2 linked regions of the Homo sapiens genome follow. The protein of the gene in region 1 purifies or fractionates together with the protein of each later gene. This does not show direct contact. Each region holds a gene or a part of one and is shown on either strand. Other genes may lie near its edges.

The links.
Region 2: the proteins of GTSF1L (region 1) and PRUNE1 purify together in Homo sapiens (affinity purification with mass spectrometry; one large-scale study listed by BioGRID and IntAct). This does not show direct contact.

What each region holds. Positions count from the first base shown.
Region 1 is NC_000020.11:43,725,433-43,728,413, reverse strand, and holds GTSF1L (gametocyte-specific factor 1-like), read left to right. Parts: upstream 1-1,411; 5' UTR 1,412-1,719; coding exon 1,720-2,166; 3' UTR 2,167-2,250; downstream 2,251-2,981.
Region 2 is NC_000001.11:151,028,650-151,032,473, forward strand, and holds part of PRUNE1 (exopolyphosphatase PRUNE1), read left to right. Parts: intron 1-136; coding exon 137-295; intron 296-3,824. UniProt on the Homo sapiens protein: Phosphodiesterase (PDE) that has higher activity toward cAMP than cGMP, as substrate. Plays a role in cell proliferation, migration and differentiation, and acts as a negative regulator of NME1. Plays a role in the regulation of neurogenesis.

The sequences.
Region 1 (2,981 bases):
CATACACACACACACACTCACACACACACCTTCCCCAAGGTCACATGGCTGGTAAGTGGCAGGAGGTAGAATTTGAATACAGTCAGCTTCCTTAACCACCACCAAGAATAGGATGGGTGAGCTTTTTCTATAATGGGCCAGACAGAAAACATTAGAGGTTTCTAGGTCATCTGGATTCTGTTGCAACTACTCAAATCTAGCTCAAAAGCAGCCAATGGACAATATATAAACAAATGGGTGTGGCTGTGCTTCAATAAAACTTTATTTACAAAAGCAGATAGCCATCTGGATTTGAATCATGGGCCCATAGTTTGTTGACACATGATCTAGAATAACAAATCCTTGAAGATAGTCAAGGCTTTTGGGGGGAAAACTAATAACAAGCAGAGACTTGCTCTATCAGATATCAGCACATAAAGCTACAAAAATTATTTGGAATTGCATTATATTTATGTATCAATTTAGGATGACTATGTAATTTATGTAATTTAGTTTACAGAGAATATTCATTTATGATTTTGAGTCTTCCTATTCAGGAATATGGTATTTCTCTACTGTCACTCAGATCTTGAGAAACAATTTAACAGGGTGGGGGGTGGGAAGGAGCTCCAGGCCAATTTTTAGAAGAAATCCTACCTAACACCAGACATGTAAATAGAATGTCAGAGGACCAAAACCACTAACACCCTGAGATATGTGTCAATTGCGTCCATTCAGACTTTGGTCCAGTTCTGTGAGGGACAACGGCAGGGTCGACCTAAGATGGGGCGTTTTATAGGAAATGTTTCCCATGTTAAGCTGAACACCAAAAGGCTTCACCTTCTGCGATATATGAATAGATTTAAACCCTTCCCCCACACCCAAGGAGACTAGGCTGCTGTGGGCCTCAGCAGAGCAGAAGGGTAAAGAAAGACGGCCCTGAGAATCACATCCAAAAACCAGCCCTGGCAAAGCGCAGGGGCTCACACCTATCATCCCAGCACTTTGGGGGGCTGAGGCGGGTGGATCACCTGAGGTCAGGAGTTCAAGACCAGCCTGGCCAACATGGTGAAACCCGTCTCTACTAAAAATACAAAAAATTAGCCGGGCATGATGGCAGGTGCCTGTAATCCCAGCTACTCGGGAGCCTGAGGCAGGAGAATCACTTGAACCTGGGAGGCGGAGATTGCAGTGGGCCAAGATCGCACCACTGTACTCCAGCCTGGCAACAGAGCGAGACTCTGTCTCAAATAAAACAAAAACAAAAACAAAAAACAAATACGTACAGTTAAAAGACTTAAGTCACAACATACATCCATGAGCAATTTTAGATGGCAGCATTCCCAAAGCCATCCACCCCTCCCAAGCAGTGCACAATAGCCTCTTCCTGATGACTTAGGCTGCCCATTGTGACCACCGGTGACTGCAGCTTGACATCATAGTATATCCGTGAGTCAAGCGGCTGTGGGTTTTTGGCTCTTGCATCTGCTATAGTTCTGTCTCGGGTGCCATTTGCTAACTCTGTTCTCTGTGTAGCTGCTTTTGGCAGCTCCTCATCTCTCTTCTAATCCACCACTCACAGTCCTAGAGAACAGACCACAAGTTAAGACCGTCACCTACAGAATCCCAAGGGCCAAAACTGGGCAGAGGACAACTCCATCCTTCTTACAAAAGGGCTTCTCCACAAGAAGCATTTCCGTTAGACTCTAGCAGTGAGATACCCTGCTTCAAGAATTTCTCATGGAGCCAGAAGCCTTTGAAATTTGCCCTTATGATCCTCACCACCGAATCCCACTCAGCAGATTCCAGTACCACCTGGCATCGTGCAGGAGAAAGAACCCCAAGAAAGCCAAAAAGATGGCCACCTGCAAATACAACGCCTGCCACGTGGTCCCCATCAAAAATCTGGAGGAACATGAGGCTGTTTGTGTCAACAGGAGCGCTGTGGAAGAAGAGGACACCGAGAACCCTCTGAAAGTCAGTCCTCCTAGTTCAGAGCAGAACGATGACACCCAGCAGGTCTCACCCTGCCTTCCCAGCCCCGATATCTGGAATGTCGATGGCGCTAATTGCCAGCATGTGTTTGTCCTTAAGACTTTTTTTCCTCAAAAGGTTGTTTGTGAAAATGACACGAAAGAGTCAGCAAGAGAGACCAGTCCCCAGAAGATCCTCAGACCAGGACAGTAAACTGCCAGCTGAGGAAGGAGCACACGCCTCATCAATGCATGGAAGAACGTGCAATGCATCAGAATAAAAGACATGCAAAGTAAACTACCCTGGGCTACCTCTTTTTTTAACCTGGCAGATTGATAAATATCAAAAGGCTTAAAATACTCTGCTGGCAAAGGTAGGGCAAAATGGGCACTTTCATAACATTGGTGAGAATGTCAGTTGGTACAACCTCCACAGAGGGCAATTTGACAATAGCTATAAACATTATCAATGCATACAGGCTTTGATTGAGCAATTCCACTTCCAGGCTTCATTCTGTAAATATAATCACACATGTGGAAAATGAGCTAAGTACTAGCTTATTCACTGCAGCATTATTTGCAGCAGCAAAAGAGTTAGAAATGAGCCAGGTGTGTTGAATCACAGCTGTAGCCTGTTACTCTGGGAGCTGAGGCGAGAGGATCGCTTGAGTTCAGCCTGGGCAACATAGTGAGATCCTGTCTTAAGCAACAAAAAAAAAAGTCAAAAATGACCTAAATATCCATTAAAAGGGCCTGATTAAAAATAAGTTATACTGCAGCCATACAACAAAATATTATGCCGCCTTAAAAAAAGTGAGGAAGCTCTTTCTGTGCTGATATAGAAAGGTTGAGACACACTGTTGAGCTCAGAGGTCAGCAAACTGTTTCTGTAAAAGGCCAGATGGCAAATATCTTAGCCTTTGTCAGCCACACAGTCTGTGTTGCAACTACTCGGCCCTGCCACTGCAACACGAGAGCAGCCACATATAATATGTAAACAAATGAACAGAGGTTCCAATAAAATGCCTT
Region 2 (3,824 bases), on another chromosome or scaffold:
CTGACCTCAAGTGATCACCTGCCTCGGCCTCCCAAAGTGCTAGGATTATAGGCGTAAGCGACCGTGCCCGGCCCAAGGATGTTTTATTGATGATGATGAGAAAGTCCTTCATCCCTCTCCGTTTCTTCCCTTTCAGGCCTTTCTGCAGAGGTCTAACCTCCTTGCAGATCTCCATGCTTTCTGCCAGGCTCACAGCTATGATGTCCTGGTTGCCATGACTATCTTTTTCAACACTCACAATGAGCCAGTGCGGCAGTTGGCTATTTTCTGTCCCCATGTGGCACTCCAAACAACGGTGAGTCTGTGTCCCTTCTCCAACCTAAGAGCCTTACAGAGTCTGCCTGTATGTACCTCTGTGCTCTACAGCTGTCCTATAAGGACCTCTCTTAGGTTCTTATATTAATGTACTTACATGAGGTCCCTTGACCTGTTTCTGGACCTGTTTCCTCCCCTTTCTGCTTTTTCCCATTCTCTCTCTATATGAATATCCTTTTTTTTTTTTTAATGAACATCCTTAATCATAGCATTGTTGAGAAAGGGGGAATTCCAAAGAGAACTAGAGATTCAATTCCTACTTTGAAAGAACGAAATCTAGTTAGAAGGAAATGTTATAAATCCGGAGTTAAAATTCCCTTCTTGAGCTAGGGACAGTGGCACGTGCCTGTAGTCCCAGCAACTCGGGAGGCTGATGCAGAAGGATTGCTTAAGCTGGAAAGTTTTTTTTTTTTTTTTTTTTTTGAGACAGTCTTGTGCTGTTGCCCAGGCTGGGGTGCAGTGGCACAATCTCGGCTCACTGCAAGCTCTGCCTCCTGGGTTAACGCCATTGTCCTGCCTCAGCCTCCCGAGTAGCTGGGACTACAGGCGCCCGCCACCACGCCCGGCTAATTTTTTGTATTTTTAGTAGAGACGGGGTTTCACCGTGTTAGCCAGGATAGTCTCGATCTCCTGACCTCGTGATCCGCCCGCCTTGGCCTCCCAAAGTGCTGGGATTACAGGCGTGAGCCACCGCGCCCAGCCGAGCTGGAAAGTTTGAGTCCAGCCTGGGCAAAGATAGCAAGACCTCATCTCTGTTGGGGAAAAAAAAAAACAAAAACTCTATTCTTGGTTTAATCATTAATTCCTCACCCCTGGAATTATGCTGTTGCCTTGAAAATTAGAAATACGAGAGACCTTTTCTGCTACTTACTATGCAGGGATTAATTATTCTGTATAGTGCAAACTCTGTAAAGAAGTGATCTAGATCCAGATTTGGCTATCTTTCCTACTTCCTCCCCCTTCTGTTCCTCTGCTGGTTACTGATTAGCCTAGGGAAGAATTTAAAAGTGGGCTTAAGGCTGGGTGCGGTGGCTCACACCTGTAATCCCAGCACTTTGGGAAGCTGAGGCGGGCAGATCACGAGAGCAAGAGATCAAGACCATCCTGGCCAACATGGTGAAACCCCATCTCTTTTAAAAATACGGAAATTAGCTGGGCGTGGTGGTGCGTGCCTATAGTCCCAGCTACTCAGGAGGCTGAGGCAGGAGAATCTCTTGAACCTCGGCAAGCAGAGGTTGCAGTGAGCCGAGATTGCGCCACTGTACTCCATCCTGCCAACAGAGCAAGACTCCGTCTCCAAAAAAAAAAAAAAAAAAGGTGGGCTTAAGGCAGTTCAGGGATTCTGAGGGTTGCCTAGGCTCTGTGAGGACTGCTAAAGACAGAATACAGCCAGATAATCCTTTGCTCTCATAGAAGGTATGTCTGTCCTTTCCCGCCCCCCTTTGCCTTTGCCTTCTCCCCAGGAAGCAAATCTGATTTCATTCAGTGTAAGGTAGTTCGTCATTATGAAAAGAACTGCAGTTTTGTCTGTTTGTTTGTTTTTTAAGATGGAGTCTCACTCTGTCGCCCAGGCTTGAGTACAGTGGTGTGATCTTGGCTCACTGCAACCGCCACCTCCCAGGTTCAGTCAGTTCTCCCACCTCAGCCTGTAGCTGGGACTACAGGCGCCTGCCACCATGCCTGACTAATTTTTGTATTTTTAGTAGAGATGGGGTTTCACCATGTTAGCCAGGCAGGTCTCGAACTCCTGACCTCAAGTGATCCACCTGCCTTGGCCTTCCGAAGTGCTGGAATTACAAGCCTGAGCCACTGCACCTGGCCAAGAACTGCAGTTTTTAAAGTCAGGTAGATGTGCTTTTCTGTTCTAGGTTTGCCTCTTACTCACTCTTTGAGCTAAGGCAAGTCAGTTGACTTCTGCATCTGGAAATGGCATAATAGTACCTACTGCTAATTCTGCTATGATCATTAAACGTAATATCATGTGTAAAGCACACTCCTGGAGCAGAGTAAGCACTTTGTAAATAGTGGCTCTTACTAATCCTGTCAGTAAGAAAAGGGTGCTTTGGCCATTAGAAGTACCTCTTCCACGTTCCTGAATCTTCTCCCCTCTGTGCTGCTCTTTTAAAGCTGTGTGGATTTCTAATGACTCTACCATTGTCTAGGTTGCCCCTATGCTTGGAAACAGGAGTCCTTCTCTCTCTGTTTTGTTTTTGTGTGTGTGTGTGTGTGTTTTTTTTTTTTTTTGAGATGTCTCACTCTGTTGACCAGGCTGGAGTGGTACAATGGCACTATCTCAGCTCACTGCAACCTCTGCCTCCCGGGTTCAAGCAATCCTCCCAGCCTCCCAAGTAGCTGCGGCTACAGGCACACCACCATGGCTAGCTAATTTTTTTTGTATTTTTTGTAGGGACAGAGTCTCGCTATGTTGCCCAGGCTGGTCTCGAACTCCTGGACTCAAGTGATCCACCAGCCTCAGCTTCCCAGAGTTCTGGAATTGCAGGTGTGGGCCACTATGCCCAGCCAGGAGTCCTTTTCTTACAGTCTACTCTACCATCTCCTCTCTTTCTCCTATGTTAGGGGTAGTATAATATATTGATTTAGAACACTGGCTTTGGTGACAGCTCTGGGCTCAGTGTCAGTTTTGCTTCATGCAAATTATGACCTTAGGCAAGTTACCTGATCATTGAAGCCTCAGTTTCCCTGCATGTAAGTGAGGGTAATAGTGATACCAGTCTTATTTTGTTCAATTCATTCTTTCTTCCTCCATCCCTCTTCTGGCCTCTAGATAAATTCTAGTTCCATCCTAGTTCAAGTTCTTGAGCACATTTATACACTTGGAAACGACACTAGATTAGAAGCTGGGGTTCCTCGGTTCTGGTTTAACTGCCATCATCTGCATGATTTTACTCACAACCATCTTACTTCGCTTTAGTTACTTTAATAATAAAATGAAATATACAATCTAAACTGTTTCCTCTGTTTTTAAAATACTGTGTATGGCTGGGTATGGTAGCTCATGCCTGTAATCCCAGAACTTTGGGAGGCTGAGCTGGGCAGATCACCTGAGCTCAGGAGTTTGAGACCAGCCTGGCCAATATGGCGAAACCCCGTCTCTACTAAAAATACAAAAATTAGCTGGGCATGATGGCAGGTGCCTGTAATCCCAGCTACTCAGGAGGCTGAAGCAAGAGAATTGCTTGAATCTGGGAGGCGAAGGTTGCAGTGAGCTAAGATCGTGCCACTGTACTCCAGCCTGGGTAACAGAGCAAGAATCCATTTCAAAAAAAAAAAAATTAAAGTAAAATAAAATAAATAAAACACTGTGTATGAATCCCAGCACTTTCGGAGGCTGAAGCAGGAGGATTGCTTGAGACCAGGATTTGGAGACCAGCCTGGGCAACATAGCAAGACCCCATCCCTAGTCTATTAAATAAAAAATACAAAATACTAAAATAAAATACTGTGGGCCAGGCTTGGTGGCTCACACCTGTAATCCTAGCACTTTGGGA